Regions from separate parts of the Homo sapiens genome. Here region 1 is linked to region 2. The links come from fine-mapping of genetic effects on plasma protein levels. A gene starts in region 2. The other region holds a variant in brackets. All regions are shown on one strand. Distances are between the middles of the regions.

Region 1 (8,612 bases), 190 kb after region 2:
CACTCTGTCATCCAGGCTGGAGTACAGTGGCGCGATCTCAGCTCACTGCAACCTCCGCCTCCCCGGGTTCAAGCGATTCTCCTGCCTCAGCCTCCCAAGTGTCTGGGATTACTGGTGCTGGCCGCGATGCTCCGCTAATTTTTATGTTTTTGGTAGAGACGGGGTTTCGCCATATTGGCCAGGATGGTCTCGAACACCTGACCTCAGGTGATTAGCCCAGCACAGATTTCTAACCCCGGAGGGCTATGAATGCTGAGCTGGCCCTGCCACAGAAGTGCTAGGCAACTTCTTACCCTGTCTGGGCTCTGGGTCCTGCATAGCACATTGGATTTGTTTAGAATGCAACCAGACCTTATTCTGGGAGGGTCACAAGCATGCTTGGTGCCAGCATCCAGGCCCAGCCCAGTCCACTTTGCCTGCCTATAACAGGCTTGACAGCTGGGCCTTGGACTTACATCCAAGGTCCCATGACTGAACCCTGCAGCCGCTCCAGTCTCATCTCCTACCAGCCCCTCCTTGCCGCGTGTCCTGTCTGCACTCCCACGGTGTTCCAGGCTGCTGCTCACCTCCACACCTGTGCTCCTGCTGTTCCCTGTGCTAGGACTGTGTCTCCTCCTTATGCCTGTATCACCTGACAAACTCCTACTCATCCTTCAAAACCCATCTCCCGCTCTGACATACCCTCCAATACACCCTTGCCTGCACCCCAGGGTGAGGAGGGGGCTGGCTGGGGGGCTCCCCCGCTACTGCATTTGCCATACTGATTTACTATGCCACACTGCCTGCTCTCACATCGACTAGAATACAAGCTACTTGGGGACAGAGACCCCAAGCCTTGGCCACATCTGTGTCTCCAGTGCCCACCACAGGGCCTGGCCAAGTGGGCCTGCCAAAGAGTATATCCTGAACTGGGAGGACCTCAGTCCTTGGCCTGGGTGGGGGAAAGGCAGTGCTCACCCCTCCCCTAGAGATGGAAGGAGACACACTCTTGCCACCCTGGCTGCCCACTTATAGGGTCATGGCGACCTCAAGGCAGACAGTGGATTCAGTTAGGGCAAAATGCAAACACACATTTCAGGGGTGGGGGGCACAGAGCAGGGGGCTTTAACCAAGCTCTCTGCCCACCCTCCCCCTGCCAGCCCCCTAGTCTGGACCCATCCCAGGGCCCCTCTGTGAACATCACTGGCATCATGACGAGCCCTTTCCTGCAGACAGCTCCAAGCTGTGGTGGAGCACCTGGGGTGGGGATTTGGGGGTTAGGAGGGGTACAGTTCCATTTGTATTTCAGGCCCAGCAGCATTCCTGCCAGGAGAGAGTTTTAGAAATGGAAATGGAGGGCTGTGTTCCCTCAGCACATGTCCCGCCTCCGGGAGCTGGCATCTCTGCTCTCACATGGCCCATGTGCAGGGGCACAGAACCCCAGGTGCCAACGAGCCCCCTCCTAGGCTGCAGCAGAAGCCCACAGCCAGGCAGGGCCCAGAGAAGTCTGACAGCCTGCCAAAAGCAACAGCAAAAACCACCTCAGCCCAGGAGCCTCCCATCCCCCACCCCCGTGTGTCTGATGCGGTGGTTTTATTGCGGGCAGTGAGGGCATTCATGACAGCCTCAGAATGTATGAGCCAGACCTGGAGCCAGCAGGGGTAAGGGGAGCAGAGCAACTGTGCGACTCCAGGAGATGGGATGTGGGCTCAGTGGAGGCCGTTGCAGGGGACCAGGGAGGCATCTGGACCTTCTGGCTAGGCCAGCTTCAAGCTCGAGTTGCGGGGAGGCCTCTCCTACCAGCAGCTAAGCATGGCTATCAACATCCTGCGTGCCCCACCCTGAGTTCAGCTGAGCCTCTGGCCCTGCAATAGGGAGATCCCAGCCCTGATGAGTGATGAAGCATGAGCCCTGCCCTTGCGGACTCCAAGGCCAAGGCCAGTTGAGGACAGGAGAGCCAGCCCCAGGGTCCGGAGTGGTGGTGAAGACTCTGGAACCAGCTCACCCACTCCAAGAACTTCCCTAGCCTCCTCATACCTCACTCTCCTCCTCTGTGGAATGGACATGGAGAAGGCTACTTCATCAGGTGACTGGTGGTGAAGTTAGGCCGATCTATTTAAGGTAGTTAGAACAGTGCCCAGCCTATGGTGAGCTCTTGTTACCTGCCTGGTGCAGGCTCTAGAAATTCAGAAAGGAAGCCAAGAAGAGTAGGAAAGTCTTTTGTTAGGAGGTGGGCTTTGCAGAATGGATCTGCAGAGATGGGGGAAGGCGACTCTGTCCTGTAGGTGGGGGAACTGCGTGAGCAAAGGCACAGAGGCCGGATGCACTGAACCTGTTTGTTCCCCCAGAGGTTCTGAGGCCACAGGAAGTGGCTGGCGTGGGAGTGGCTGGTCCAAGGGGAGCTGCACTATTAAGTGTGGAGGGGGAGGGGGACAGGAGCAGGACCACAGGGACCTTGACCGCCAAGCTGGGGGAAGGAAGTGTGAATAAAGCCCCAATGCCACCAGGCATCTCTGTACTGCCCTCCTCTCCCTCCCCACTCCAGCCAGGCACCTGCCCTGTTTCCTGGGACCCCCTGAAGGAGGACATCCCTTAGCTCCACAAAGAGCCCTGCCCTAGTCTTCACATAGTAATTGTCTTGTGTGTCTCACCCAGTGATAAGGGGTGGGCAAGGGGCAGGGGTGGGGGCTCTTGAGCACCCGTTTTATAGATGAAATGCCTGAGACCAGGCGGGAGCCCCTGGGGCCTCCCTGGCTTCATGGGGCAGGCTCAAGTCCCTCAAGGGCGCGGCTTCCCTCCCTCTCAGCAGCCCACACTTGTTCTATGTCCGGTGATGGGTCCCTGAGGGTCCGCTGGGGCGCCCCTCCAGCCTCCCGCCAGAGCAGGGCTGGAAGACTGCCATGTCTGGGGCCAGGCTGAGCTCAGTGCATGCCTCTGCGTAGTGCATTATTGATGGGGCTTCTAATTGTGCGTTTCCCAAAGTCTACAGGCTTTTGATGAAAAATTCATGGCACGCCCGAGGATGGGAGCAGACTCAATCGATTGGCGCACAGCAGGCAGGGGAGGACAGGGCCCCTTGCAGGGAGGGGTGGTGAAGCCTGGTCTGGGAGGCTTCTTGCCCCAGGATCTTGGGGATAGCAGGGGGCACACACCCATTTCCCTGGTGGGGAGGCTGAGGGGCAGGAGCAGGAAGATTTAAGGCCCACATCTCAGTGCCAGCCAGTGACTGGTGCCATCCAGGGAGGATGGCCGACTCCACCACGGGCCTCCCTTTCATTTCCCTGGAGGGGTGCTAGACCCTCCAGAGCCCCTCATGAGAGTTGCACAGAGGAGGGAGTAATATTTCTGGAGCCACTCTTATATGCCAGACGCTGCTCGGACGTGTACACTCGCAGCCTCATTTAATCCCCAACAGCGTTATGAGATGGGCACAGTGATGCACTCCATTTTACAGAGGAGAAAACAGGCTTAGAGAGGTTAAGTGACCTGTCCAAAGTCACACAGCTGCTTAGTAACAGAGCCCACTATCTTTCCACTTCACCAGGCCCACTCAAATAAGAACTAATAGGAGTATGGGGATTGTCTTGTGCCACTCCCCTACTTGTCCCTATTGTTCAGAGGAAGTGTCCCCATTAAGAAAAAGTGGAGTGGGCCAGGTGCAGTGGCTCATGCCTGTAATCCCAGCATTTTGGGAGGCTGAGGCAGGTGGATCACGAGGTCAGGAGATCGAGAGCATCCTGGCTAACACGGTGAAACCCAGTCTCTACTAAAAAAATACAAGAAATTAGCCAGGCATGGTGGCAGGCACCTGTAGTCCCAGCTACTCGGGAGGCTGAGGCAGGAGAATGGCATGAACCCGGGAGGCGGAGCTTGCAGTGAGCCCAGATCGCGCCACTGTACTCCAGCCTGGGAGACAGAGCAAGAGACAGAGCCAGACTCCATTTCAAAAAAAGGAAAAAAGAAAAAGAGTAAGTGAAACATGAGGCCTGCAAATGAGAAAAGGAAGCGCCCTCCACAACACCGGCAGAAGCCAGAGGCCCCCCAACCCTGTGCAGAGTGCTGAGCTGGGCACCCAGCAGCAGGGGTGGAGATTTTGAAACGGGTAGAGGTGACTGTCTTGGCTTGTCCAGTCAGGGATTATTATTGTGCCACCATTGAGGCCCCAAAGAACACTGTAAGTCATCTATTCATTCATTAAACAAGTAAACAAATATTTATGAAGTCCCAGTGCTGGTCAGCATCTTGCTAGGTCCAGGTGGAGGGCCCTATCATGAAAGCCTTTGGGACCAAGCTTGTCTGGGACAGACAGGCTGAACCCAGTTCAGCTGGGGAAAGGCAGGCAGGCCCCTCCATGCCCCAGGAGGGGGTCTCCGCAACCCAGGCTGAAGCCAGTTATATCAGACATTCTGCCTTCATGACCAGGGCCGTTTCTAGGTGGCGGGCTGGCTTGTTTGGGTTTGTTTTTTTTTTTTTTTTTTTTTTTGCTTCCCAGTGAGTTTCTTTCAAAAAC[A/T]TCCACCCATGTCTCCGCTGAACTAAAGAGAAAGGAATTTGTCCAGAGCATCAGGAAAGCAGCCAGAGGAAGTCCCCAGGGACCAGGCGTGGGGCCCTAAGCCACACTGCAGCTGCAGGGAGGAGAGTGAGCCCAGCTTGTGCTGCTGCGGGGTGGGGAGGACTCCTGAGGGGACAAGGGGGAATCAGGGAGCAGAGAGACTAAGGGGGAGGGGGAGGAGGAGACTCAGGGACAGAGGGTGAGGCTCAGTGGGAGAGAAAGGGGAGACAGGGTATGGGGGTAACCAGGAGGCAGAGAAAGTGGAGAAGAGCGGAGGGAGTTGAGGGGGAGGCAGGAACCAAGGTGTAGCCAAGGGCAGGTGAGGGAGGAGGGACTCTGAGCCTGGGCCAGGGGAGTCAGAAGGCCGGAGCCCTGAAGGGCCCCACAGCCCTCCCCGGCCCTGCTGTCTCCATACAATTCTGTGGCCAAGGAGTGAACCTTGCATGATTTCAGCCACCCCACCCAGACACCCCCCACCCTGGAACAAAGGGGAAGTGGCCCCATGGGCCTGCCTGCTTCCAGCTCAGGGCTGGGCTTGGTCACCAGGCAGGCACTTGTTGTAGCAACAGTCCCTGGGGACCCATCCTGGGGAACAGGACTGCTAGCAGTAAAGATGGGGGAGCCAGGGCCCCCATCCCCTCCAGCCCCCAAGGCTGCCCCAGGCCTCATTGACAGCTTCTCTGTAAGTCGCCCCCTCGCCCACTGGTTCTGGGAAGATGGGTTGGCTCGCCTAGCAGCAGGTGTGTTGGGGTGTGTTGCCCAGCAACCAGTAGAGGTGTTCCCAGAGCCTCTTAAGTGGGAGGCAGGGTGGAGAGGACCAGGGCTTTGGCCCTTAGATGCCCGTGGTCACAGGAATCTTTTGCAAGGCCCCTGGCTCCAGCCTAGGCCACCTGAGCCCACACAGTAATCCAGAGAGGGAGGACAGAAGGGCTTCTGGGAAAATCCCTTGAAGTGATCATTGCCTCCTGCTAGTCTGGGCCCTACCTCTGGTGTCTTGGAGGTCCAGCCTTGGATCCTAGAAAGTGGCTGAGCCTGGGCTAGCCTGGGAAGGCTTGCTGGTAGTGCATGTGTGGTGCCGAGCTGTGAGGAGGAGTGGGTGTGGCAGATGGGGCATCCAGTGGAAGCAGCAGCTCAGACTGGGGGCTGGGGCCGCCCCAGTAAGTGCTAACCCTTCTGGTTTGGGCCCCAGTTGCCAAAGCATTTCTTCTTCCCCTTTGGCAAGAATCCCAGAGGACAACCCCAACAAGGGTCATTCCCCACAGGGTGCAGATGAGCAGGCACGGAGTGGGCAAGGGCCTCGCTTCGGGTCGTTCGACAGCTGTGGGCAGAGGCTGGATCAGAACCCAAGGTTCTGGGTTCCAGCCAGGGCTCTTCCCCCACCCAATGTGGGGCATTCCTGAGGCAGCAAAGCTCTAACCAGGGAGGATTCTGGCAGGAGGTGACCAGTGGGGAAGGGTTCTTTGAGGAAGAGTGAACAGGGCCTGTGAGACCAGGACTGGGGCCTGCCCCTCACCACCTGCTGAATGCCCAGCCCTGTACTCACCTGGGCTGAGAGCAAGGGCTGGCCCCAATCTGCTGTCAGCAGAGGCTGGACTCTGGCCCAATACCCAAGGAGTCATGACTGATGGCCTGTCTTGGGATAGCCCGGGGGTCTTCCTGGAGGAGGAGGGCCCAGAATGGAGCCTTGAGGGTCAGGCAGCGTTCAGAAAAGCCTAGGAGGGGAAGTAGGAATGGGAAGCCAGCATCTTCCAGGAAGCCCCGCCCCCACCCCAGCCCAGCCGGTCTCCATTGTCCCAGCCAGGCCCAATTAGCACCTGGCTCCTGCAGGGGCCAATTAGACAGGGGCTGAGGTCAGCTGCCGGCCAAGGCCCTGCCACCCCTCCAAGCTTCACCAAGCCAAGCACAAAAGCTTTCTAGGCATCATCTCTGCTGCAGCAGGAAGGGAAAGAAAGAACAGAAGAAAGGGAAAATTCACTCCTTTTGTTTCTTTGCCATAACCTTGGGCTGAACAAAGAAGCAACTGCCTCCCCTCCCTGGGAGGGCAGCTTCTGTGGAGCAGGAAGTCTGTTTTAAACAGCAATTTGCACAGATTTGTTGTGGTTGGGAGGCCCAGATGACATTCGAGGGGAACCAGGAGCAGAGACCTGGGGTGAGCAGGGCCCTGGTTCTAGAAACTCCTGTGACTCCCCACTGCGCTCTGTTCAGAAGCAGAGCTTCCGGGCCTGGCTGGTGCAAACAGGTGGGCCTGCTCCAGCTCTCTAGCCAGACAGACCTGTGTACTTTGCTGCCTCCAAAGAGCCCAGCCCACATGGGCCTCCACACCTTCCCTCAGTGTTCCCCACCTCTGAAGTCCCACCCAATCCAGTCAAATCTCACCTGCACCTCAAAGGCCCAGCTCCACCCCTCCCCTGCAGGATCCCCTCCCCAACCCTACCCCTGGCCTTGACTTGCACTCCTAGGGTGTGAGCCATGTCCCACACAAGGCCTGCCTCCCACCGGGAACTCTCTGAGTGCAGGGTCTCCCCACCCCCAACAGAGCTGAGCTTAGGGGTACAAACAGCAGCTGCCAGGCCCTGCTGGGGAGCAGGTGGAAGGGAGATATATGCCAGAGTCCAAAATGGGGTTTGGGAAGCTGGGGCCACCCTGGGGTGGTGACAGGTGGAGAAGGGGACCCACCAGTGCCATTGCCTCCTCCAGGCTCCCACCCCCAGGGCAATGCCACATCGCACAGACCACCCTGCCCTCACCTCCCTAACCCTGCCCTCTGTGTCTCAGGAGCGCAGCCTCTCCCACTGGGCTATGCCCTTGCCGCTTCGATATCCCACCCAGCCAATGAGGCTCTCAGTCCTCCCTCGCCTGCCCTCTGGTGGTGATGAGGTTCCAGAGTGAATGGAGGGAAAGAAAGAAGCTTGTCCTCATGGCCAGTGGGTTCTATTGTCCTTCAGTGGCTGGGAAGGGAGCTTGGCTGGGTGGGCAGTGGCAAAGAACTGAGAGGCCAGGGTCCCAGTGGCATTGGCCCGTGTGTTTCTGGGAGTAAGGGGACTTCTTAGCCATGGTGAGCCCCAACCCCTGGGAAAACACTAGTCCCTTTCAGCAAATTTTCAGGCACAACCTCCATCCTCCCCGACTTGTCCCTGAGACGGCCCCTCAGAACTGGGCTTTTGCTCCCTGGTCTCTGGAACTGGAGGAGGCCAGCATCAATTTGCCAGCTGAATTTTCCATTGTATTTTAAAGAAATGTGGTTAATTCGCTTTATTTTATTTTATCTTATTTTATTTATTTATTTATTTTTGAGATGGAGTCTTGCTCTGTTGCCCAGGCTGGAGTTCAGAGGCACGATCTCAGCTCAGTGCAACCTCCGCCCCACCCCCGCCTGCCCCCCAGTTCAAGCGATTCTCCCACCTCATCCTCCCAAGTAGCTGGGATTACAGGCATCCACCACCATGCCTGGCTAATTTTTGTATTTTTAGTAGAGATGGGGTTTCACCATGTTGGCCAGGCTGGTCTCAAACTGCTGACCTCAGGTGATCCACCTCCCTTAGCCTCCCAAAGTGCTGAGATTACAGGCATGAGCCACTGTGCCCGGTGTACTTTTTGTATTTTTAGTAGAGAGGGGGTTTCACTGTGTTGGCTAGGCTGGTCTTGAACTCCTGACCGTGAGTGATCCGCCCCCCTCGGCTCCCAAAGTGCTGGGATTACAGGCGTGAACCACCGCACCGGGCCAAGAAATGTGGTTAATTCCCTTTAAAAGTATTGGGAAATTTAGATTAGCCAAGAGAGACCTCTCTGACATTCAAAGGACACCTACAGGAGTTCTGTTTGGCAAATCTGGCAGGAGCAGGGTCTGGGTCAAAGGATTTGCCTGAGTAAGTCAGGGAGGCAGGGAGGCCCTTCCCTGCCATCAAGGTCTTTAGGAGCTGAAGGGGGAGCATGTGCGTGGCCCTTGGCAGATGAGGAGTGCCAGGCTGGTGTAGGCGAGAAACAGCTTCTGGGCAGAGGTAGGGAAGGCTTTGAAGATAGGGGCCCAGAAGGCTGGGCCCATGGGTGGAGTGGCCAGGGCTAAATTCTGAAAGGGGGTCTAGCT
Region 2 (8,582 bases):
GGGGGTTCTCTGAATGTGTGTTTATTGTGGCCTTTCTGTGTCCTGTGATGGCCCCACGGAATGGAGGACTGAGAGTTGCAGAGCAGGAAGGGGTGGCAGCCTTGTTCTTTCCTGGTCAATGTGCCAGGCTCCCAAAATATTCAGTGATCAGATTTTAACCTCAAATAGCAGTGCCCCAACCGCCCCTGAATCTTGCTATGGAAAGAGCCTTTGGTAAGTGTTTTGAAGCAGGAAGACTCCCTCTGCCCACAGAGCAGTGCACAGCAGTTTGGGGGAGGGGCTAGCTCCTGGGACCCAAGCGGGCCTCAAGAGATGAGGCGGGAGGCGGGTTGCAGTGTGATGGGAGGGGAGACACAGAAATTGCCAAGGGCCATGAGGAAGAGAGGAAGCCACAACCCCAGGCTCCCAAGGAGGGTGTCTTCCTGCAGGAAGCCCTGTCAGATGGCAGCCTGCGGCCCAAAAGCCCCAACTCAACCTGCAAACTGGCTTCTTCTAAGGCCACAGCACCCAAGGGCCTCAAGACACACATCTAGCCCATTCCCCTACCATTGCATGGGTGGAAACCTAGAAGGAGAGAGGGCAAGGAGTTGCTTAAGACCACTTAGAGAGTTTGTGAAGCTGGAGTGAGCTTTCAGGTTGTGGAGCTCCAAGCCCAGTGTGGTCTGCCCCACTTTGCACTGCCCCACATTTTTCCTAAGACCAAGGTAGAATTATTCCTCCTGTTTTCCACCTCAACAGTAAAAGTGCCTCTCTTCTCTGCCATGGGACTGGGAGACATGTTCAGGATGTGAAGTCATATAGGGACATCTTTGAGTTCATAAACATCTCCTGTTCATAAATATCCGACTAAAGACTGAAGCTTCCACTGCTCCCAAAATAGCTTTGGATCCCAGCACAGGCATTTCCAAGAACAGATTTTTATCCTTTCAAGAATTCCGTGAAAGAGCTGGGTGCGATGTGTGCCTCTAGGCACAGCTACTTGGGAGGATGAGGCAGGAGGATCACTTGAGCCCAGGATTTGAGGCCAGCTGGACAATACAGTTTGATCCTCAGCCCAAATAAATAAATAAGTATAAAAATAAATCAATCGATCCAAGAATTCTGTGAAAGCAAAGAATCCTCTGGTTTGTATGCCTACCAGAGTTTCCTGAAGTTGGTCACACACACTGCCCTGACCCTGACTGTGATCTCAGACTGTGGATATAGATTGGTCTAAACTCCAGATAAGGAAGTATCTAGTATGGTCCATTATAATCCTGGTCATTCTCATTTCAATTCATTTTGATACAATATTAGGCTACTCTGAACATGCAATTCCCCAATCCTTCTATTTAAAAGGGATTTCTTGCTTGTAGTGAGCCTTGGGATTGACTCCTCTATAGCCATATCAGGGCCAGATAATTATTCTGAACCAATCAGTTTCATCCCCTTCACCAGTGACTGGTTCAGAGATAAACAGTCCTATGACAATAGGTGTCAAGACCCAGGGGAGAGGCTGTGGCTTCGGAAAAGAGAAGCCTGTCTTTCTAACCCACTAGTCTGTTAACATTACGTTTGTGGCTGGGCACAGTGGCTTACACCTGTAATTTTCAGCACTTTGGGAGGCTGAGGCGGAAGGATCACTTGAGGTCAAGAGTTTGAGACCAGCCTAGCCAACATGGTGAAACCCTGTCTCTACTAAAAATACAAAAACTAGCGGGGTGTGGTGGCACGCACCTGTAATCCAAGCAACTCGGGAGGCCGAGGCAGGAGAATCACTTGAACCCAGGAAGTGGAGGTTGCAGTGAGCCAAAATTGTGCCACCGCACTTCAGCCTGAGTAACAAGAGTGAGACTCCATCTAAAAAGAAAAAAAAACAAAAAACACAATAGGTATGTTTCCTTGGTGGCTCCGGAAGCCCTCCAGTGACACCAAGGCACCAAGGGACCCAGTCCTTGGGCTGGAAGCCCTATTAAGGGTGGCAGAGGGGAGAGATGAAAGAACTTGCAACTGCTGATGTCACTGAGCCGCTGAATCAACAGCCGGGAAGCCAGCCTTGCTTCCTGCTTTGTGAGACGATACACTTAATACTTTCCATCCTTGGGGGTGGGAATCTTGTTATTTGCCGATGGAAATATTACACATCATCCCCAGCCCCCACTCCCCTGCCTCACCCGGCCCTACCCTTTACCATGGCAAGTCCTGCCACGGAGGAGCTGGCTGCCTCAGAAAATCTCTTGGGGAAACCAGTCCTGCCTGAATTGGGGTGGGATTGCCAAGCATTTTGCATCCCGCCCCCCTTACTTGTTTTTTGGTGTTTTTTTGTTTTGTTTTTTGTTTTCGTTTTTGTTTTTGTTTTGAGACAGAGTCTCACTCTGTTGCCCAGGCTGGAGTGCAGTGGTGTGATCATGGCTTATGGCTGCCTCGACCTCCTGGGCTCAAGCGATCCTCTGGTCTCAGTCTCCCTCCAGAGTAGCTGGGACCACAGTTGTGTGCCACCACGCCCAACTAATTTAAAAAAAATGTAGAGATGAGGTCTGACTATGTTGCCCAAGCTGGTCTTAAACTCCTGGGCTCAAATATTCCTTCTATCTTGGCATCCCAAAGTGCTGGGATTACAGGCATGAGCCATCTTGCTCAGCCATGTTCCCCTTTGAATGCAGGAGTATCGCCTCTTCCAGGCAGGAGTTCCTCTTATTCAGTGAGACAAGCACAGACCCAGATAATTACATGAGCTGCCACTGGAAGAGCTGCTGTTAATTTTGATGGCAATAAAAGGCCTTGCCAGTACGTTAAGCTAATTTCATGAAAATGCTGGGAGGAGGGTCATGGGCTGGATCCCAGATTATTAATAATGTCGAGCTTCATTTGAACCATTCAGAAAATTCCTCTCAGTTGCCTCCAGCAAACTGCAACAGGTTGCTACTTTCCTCTGAAATCAACAGTCTTCTCATAGGCAAATGTGGATTTTTTTGTTTTTCCCTAGAAAATAATTAAAGTCACAAAGTCCAATAAATACTTAAACAGAATGTAGTTTTAATTAAAAACCTTCCACCAAGTCTGCAGTTGCGGGTCTCTCTTTGCAAACAGGCATGCTGACAAGCATCAGTCTAAGTATCTGAAACTAGAAACCTTTACAAATAATAATAGTAAATCTGGTTTCTACATATACCCATGGTGTGTGTGTGTGCAAAGGGGGTGGTGGTGGTGAAGAGGTCTGGGGGCAGAGCCAAGGTGCTCCCCTGTGGAGGAGGCAGGACACAAGCCTGTAGGGGTGTGTGCAGCAGAACCTTTTATCAAACTTGTGTCCCACTCTGCAAGGCAATAATAATGGCTAATTCAGCTATTATATAAAAAACGTATCTCAAGTACTGAGCACTAAGTGTCAGGTACTAAGTGCTTTGCGTACATTGATTCATTTAATCCTCAAGGTGACCGAAAAGCATAGGTATTTTTTTTTTTTTTTTTTTTTTTTTGAGACAGAGTCTCGCTCTGTCGCCCAGGCCGGAATGCAGTGGCACTATCTCGGCTCACTGCAACCTCTGCCTCCCGAGATTCTCCTGCCTCAGCCTCCTGAGTAGCTGGGATTACAGGCATGCACCACCACGCCCGGCTAATTTTTGTATTTTTAGCAGAGACGAGGTTTCACCATGTTGGTCAGGCTGGTCTCGAACTCCTGACCTTGTGATCCGCCCGCCTGGGCCTCCCAAAGTGCTGGGATTATTACAGGTGTGAGCCACCGCGCCTGGTCAGTACTCTTATTTATGCCTTTTTTTCTTGAGGCACAGAGAGGTTAAATAGCTTGGCTAAGGACACACAGTCAGTACATAATGGAGTCTGACGCTAGGACCTGCCCGCCTGACGACTACATAGAACCTGTACAAGGAAAGGCCGGAGGAGGGAGTATAAACAGGGCCTGGCTTCCCTGAGGAGTGATCTTTCGACTGGAAATTAGAAAAGGAAAGCAGCTTCTTGAGGGTGTGGGGCTGGAGAGAACATTTGTGTGTGTGTGTGTGTGTGTGTGTGTGTGTGTGTGTGTGTGTGTGTGTGTGTGTGTCTGTGCGCGCAGAAGCTGAAAGATGGGAAGTAGTGAGTGTTCAGGGGCTTCTGACTGGAGGGCAGCCTTGGGGAAGGTCTCCGCAGCCTTAACCGGCTGCTATGCTGGGGATGTTTGATGCCCATCTGGGCCCCGGCTTTCTTATTCTCAGAGGCCCTTCCCACATCTTTAGGCAAGTCCATTAAATCCTCCGCGTGCCACATTAAAATACAAGGGCAAGTACAACTCTGAGTGCAGTTGCAACAGAATCGTTTGCACAATGTCGCATGTCTTAAACATTCAATCAAACATCGATTACTTCCAATTTTGCAGTTTTCTTTGCCCCTGTTAGCGCCAACAGATTTTTTTTTCCAGATCTCAGACATTTATTTTAATAGGCCCCTGACAAAGTCATAAGACTCAGAGAGAAGGGAGAGTGGGAGAGGTGTATAGGAAGGTTTTGTGCCAGGGACTAGTCGCTCAAGAATTAGGAGACGCCCTGGGCACTGGAAACTACGCAGCGCGAAGTAGGGACAGCGCCTGTGTTGTGTAGTGGACCAGAGGTTGCTGATACCTGGGACATAGACTGGGTGGGCACGGGAAGTAAAGCCTCGGGACTTTGGTTAAGCGCGCCCCACTGGCGTATCGCGCCGCGGGACTGCAGAGCCGTGAGCAGCGGTCGCCTTGGTGCAGGGTTCCAGCCACATCTTCCTCGCCCAGCCAGCACCCTCTGCCGTTGACCCGCCTCTGCGCCCGGCAAGCGGCTTCCAGCAGGGGGCGCGCGCGGACCAGGCTTGGGCCCTAGAACAGCGCGGATGGAGTCGCTGGAGCAAGTCCCCAGATCCAACCGGTTTCAACCCTCCCCACCCTCCCGACGCTCCGGGTTCGCGACGTTGAAGTTAAGGGTCGATCCGCAGAAAGCGGCCAGGGGCTCCAGCTCTCCATTCCTGGGTCTGTCTGGGGTCGGCTCCAGCCTGGTTAGAAGCCTTAGTCTGGATTCGGCAGATTCTGAATCTGGGACCCTCTGCGCTAGCGGCTTGGAACCTTGTCACCCTCCCCTCCCCCACCCCTACTTCCACACACCTGATTAGTTGTCTGTTTCTTTAATGATCAAAGACGTGGGCGGCGGCGGGATGAGGTCTTGGTTCCCGGCTCCACAGCCCTCCCTAACTGTCATTATTAACGTTATAAACATTAGACCCGCTTCTGCGCGCCGGACGGCGCCGGACGAGGTGCGCGCAGTCTTCTAGCTGAGCTCGGAGGCAGATCCAGAAGTCGCGGCTCCCACCCCAGGCCTCGGCGGACTCTGCCTGGGGCGACTCGGGCTCCAGCCCTGCCCGGGCGGGCACTGGGCTCTCCAGGGTCGAAGGCAGGGGTAAGGGGCGTCTTTCCCCCAGGGCAGCCTCCGGGAACAAAAGCATTTGCTGTAGAGTGAGCTAGAGCCTCCGGGCCCGCGGGAGTCAGCTCCCGCCCAGGGGTGGTCACCGCGTCCTTAACCACCCCAGGAGCCCCGTCTCCCTGCCGAACTCCTTGGCTTCTGCAACCCTGTCAAGACAGCAAGGAAAGGGGGTCTTCCCTGGTCCTCGGGCCCCGAAGTTTCGGGGTTGCTTATAGGACGGGTTCCTGCAGTCCAGGGAAGCTCTGGGCAGATAGCGAGCCCATTCTCCCTTCCATTACCCAGATTCTGCCTCCCTGCGGAAGGCAAAAAAGAAAGAAAGAAAATAGGTAAAAACCGGCGGAGGGCCTTGAGCCTCCCCGCCTGGCGCCCCTCACTCAGTCCCGAAAAGTCCCCTGGACACGCCATGCCGGACCGGACTCAGCTCCCGCTGCTGGGCCCCTGCCTCCAAATATCCTTCCCAGGCACAGGCTCCCAAGACCGCCCCCTCAGGGTTCCCAACACCCGGACAACTGCCCAAGACGCCGCTCCCCGCCCCCACCCCCACCTTGTTCGGCAGACAAAGAAGGGTGTGCTGGCCCCGCCGTCTGCCTCCTTCTCCCGACCCCACAAGGCCTAGAAACCTCAGGGACTCACCCCGGGCTAGGGACCCAATCCTGGCTGTCCCACCACAGGATCCCCGGCAGGGACGGGTCACAGTGCTCTCACCCCTCGACCATTTTCGAAGACACCTTCCCTGAAAGGCGCCTTGCGCCCTCCCCATGGGTCGGCGGGGGGGGACTCCAGGCCCGAGCAGGCGGTGTGAAGTTCTGTGTTCTGAACTGGGGCTGAGCAAGATGCGATGGTCTCAGCCCGCTGGGCCGCCCGTAGCGACGGCAGGAGTAGGGGAGAGGGAGGGACGCTTGGAGTGTGAGCGCACCAGTCTGTTCATATTTAATTTACAAAGCAGCCTCGGAACCCCGGGCCGGGTGGTCTCTTTAGACGCTGCGCTCTTAGCCTGTCTCTCTTCCCCACCCCCTCCCCTAGCTCATTAAGATGCTCAACACTCAAATCGGGGTATTGATCTCCACGGAAGCCCCAAACCCTCGCCATCGAGAGACCCCCATGGCCCGGGGTGATGGCTGTGGGGCTTGGTGCTCCCAGAGAGCTCAGTGGCTACAGAATGGGTGGGGATTCTGCGTGTCTCCCGGAGCCTGAACCCCTTTCCTGGTTATGGCCGGTAGCTGTCTCCAGGGCTAACGTGGGCAGCGCAGGGGGGCGGAAACCGGGTTTTAGCCAAATGCCTCGACATCGCCGCGCCTCCGCCTCCTCGTCGCTGAAAGAAATGTCGGGGTTTCATCAGAGCTAGGGAGCGACAGTCGGGAACAGCGAGTCTGCCGAAGCCGGCTGTTGTGTGAGGGTGTGAGACGGCGGGGCGGTGAGGGGCCACCGCGGCTTGGGGGATAGTGCGTGTGGGGTTGACCGTGTGTCTGCTTGAGAGGCTGTGAAGATATGGGGGGCAGATATGGGAGAAATGCTCGGGCCTGAAGTCCCCAGCCCACCGTGCTCAAGAGTAGCGGACGTTTTGCCACCATCCTTGTCTGTGCTACTGTCTGCTGCAGCTTCCGTGCCCCGTTCTCCTGGAGCAGGCAAGACCTGGAGTGAGGTGCTTGGGTGCGCTCGAGAGAGCTTCCCCCTGCTCCACCTGTCCCGCGGTGCGCGCAGGCCAACGCGTCGGGCAGTGGGCTTCAAGCGCTGGTTTAGCCACAAAAGACCAGAAGTAAAGAGTTCCGGCTTAAGAGGCTGGGCAGGGCTGCGGTGGGCTGGGGAGGGGGGTGTCCCTTCCCAGCACGCCCTGCAGGGCTGTGCGTTCTGGTGTCGGGTTAGACTAGCAGGCGGGGCGGGGGGGTTGGGGCGGCGGGGCGGGGGAGACTAGGGCTTATATCAGCCCAGATCCAGGCAAAAATGGTAGGGAGGGTGCGGCGCTCTGCTAACACTATCAATTATGCATCATGTTGAACGTGGCTTCGGGGAGGAGGCGGCTAGCAGCGGGGGGTGCGGGAGGGAAGGGTCCGCGCGAGCTCGGCTGCGCGCAGCTCAGCGGGTCCCGCTCGAAGTCTGTCGGTGCCACCGCCTGCATTTGCAAAAAGAGTTTAAAGGCAAAGACACGCCTTCCCCCCCCACTTCAGCCGCGCGCCTTTCCTTCCCCCAAATTCCTCAAAGATGGTTTGTCTCACGTGTTGCAGGGCGTAAAAGCGGCTTGCATTCAATTAGCAGCGAAGCTCGCGGGCGCTGGCGGGACAGGCGCGTGAGGGTGAGTTCGCGTGAATGTGTGTATGCGTGTGCGAGAGGAGAACGGTAAGTGTCCCGGGTGCAGGTGTGCCCGTGAAAATGCGTGTGAATGTAGCAGGGGCTGAACACATTGATGCGATTATTACCTGACCATGGATGATTGTAAACTGTGAAGGTCGGCTATGGGGAGGGTGTGAGGGACTGTGTGCGCGAATGTGTTTGAACGTGGGGTGGGGGAGGTGGTGTGATCAGGGACAGTAACAATGCCAGCGGCTGTGTAAATGTGGGGGTACGTGGGTTATGGGGGTGCAGTAGGCTGCGAAGAGCCCAGCCAGGACAGTGGGCGTGGGATGCCCCTTATGACCGACGTGTCTTGGCCTTGGGGAGGGTCTCCGTGGCTTTAACAAAAGTAGACCAAGCAGGAGGCGGGAGAGGCTATGCGCGTCCCCGCCAGGCCCGGGAGTGCGCAAGGACTTTCTCCAACCTGCAGCCAGAGAGGTGGGGGAAACGGACGCAAAAGGAAAAATTGAAGTGGTACTTTGGGGCCACCAAGTCCCCAAACTTACCTGTCCCTTTCTTTGCCCCCCGCCCCCCGTTTTCCCCACAGCCACAACACATGCGTGTATCTTGCTTGGGCTATCTTCCCTGCTCTGCCACGCCGGGTCTGGAGAAGGGGTTTCAGCCCCAGGACATTTACTGAGAGTCGGCGAATATTGGGTAAGCAATGGGGGCCACCCCACAACCTTGACCCAGGTGGGGTTAGGTCCAGCCTAGGGCACCTGATGGGGTGCGGGGCTGGTGGGGGTGCTGTCTGGCAGGAACCGGGAAGGGAGGGAAGGGACCCTCCCAGAAGAGCAAAGGCAGAGTGAAGGAGCAGGTTCCCAAAGACAAGTTGTGGGA

The links. A credible set is the group of variants that fine-mapping cannot tell apart. PIP is the chance, under the fine-mapping model, that this variant and not a neighbour inherited with it causes the effect. Protein levels are from the aptamer-based SomaScan assay of Sun 2018.
Region 1: its variant is the best candidate, but not a certain one, in a credible set for the plasma level of the ISLR2 protein (Sun 2018, PIP 0.59).

What each region holds. Positions count from the first base shown.
Region 1 is chr15:74,313,449-74,322,060 of GRCh38, forward strand. The region is part of intron 11 of CCDC33 (coiled-coil domain containing 33); the gene reads left to right. It overlaps CCDC33-AS1 (CCDC33 antisense RNA 1), which reads right to left and starts at 6,244. Exons shown (of 2, transcript XR_007064711.1): 1 at 6,072-6,244. RefSeq lists enhancers at 2,345-2,444, 5,678-6,588. The variant A/T (reference allele first, on the strand shown) is at 4,490.
Region 2 is chr15:74,122,918-74,131,499 of GRCh38, forward strand. It overlaps ISLR2 (immunoglobulin superfamily containing leucine rich repeat 2), which reads left to right and starts at 7,669. Exons shown (of 3, transcript NM_020851.3): 1 at 7,669-7,704; 2 at 8,290-8,399. LOC283731 (a long non-coding RNA gene) reads right to left here and starts at 6,361. Exons shown (of 3, transcript NR_152622.1): 1 at 6,048-6,361; 2 at 5,099-5,707; 3 at 3,456-4,816. RefSeq lists enhancers at 1-292, 1-47, 6,975-7,884, 7,885-8,582 and a silencer at 8,286-8,485.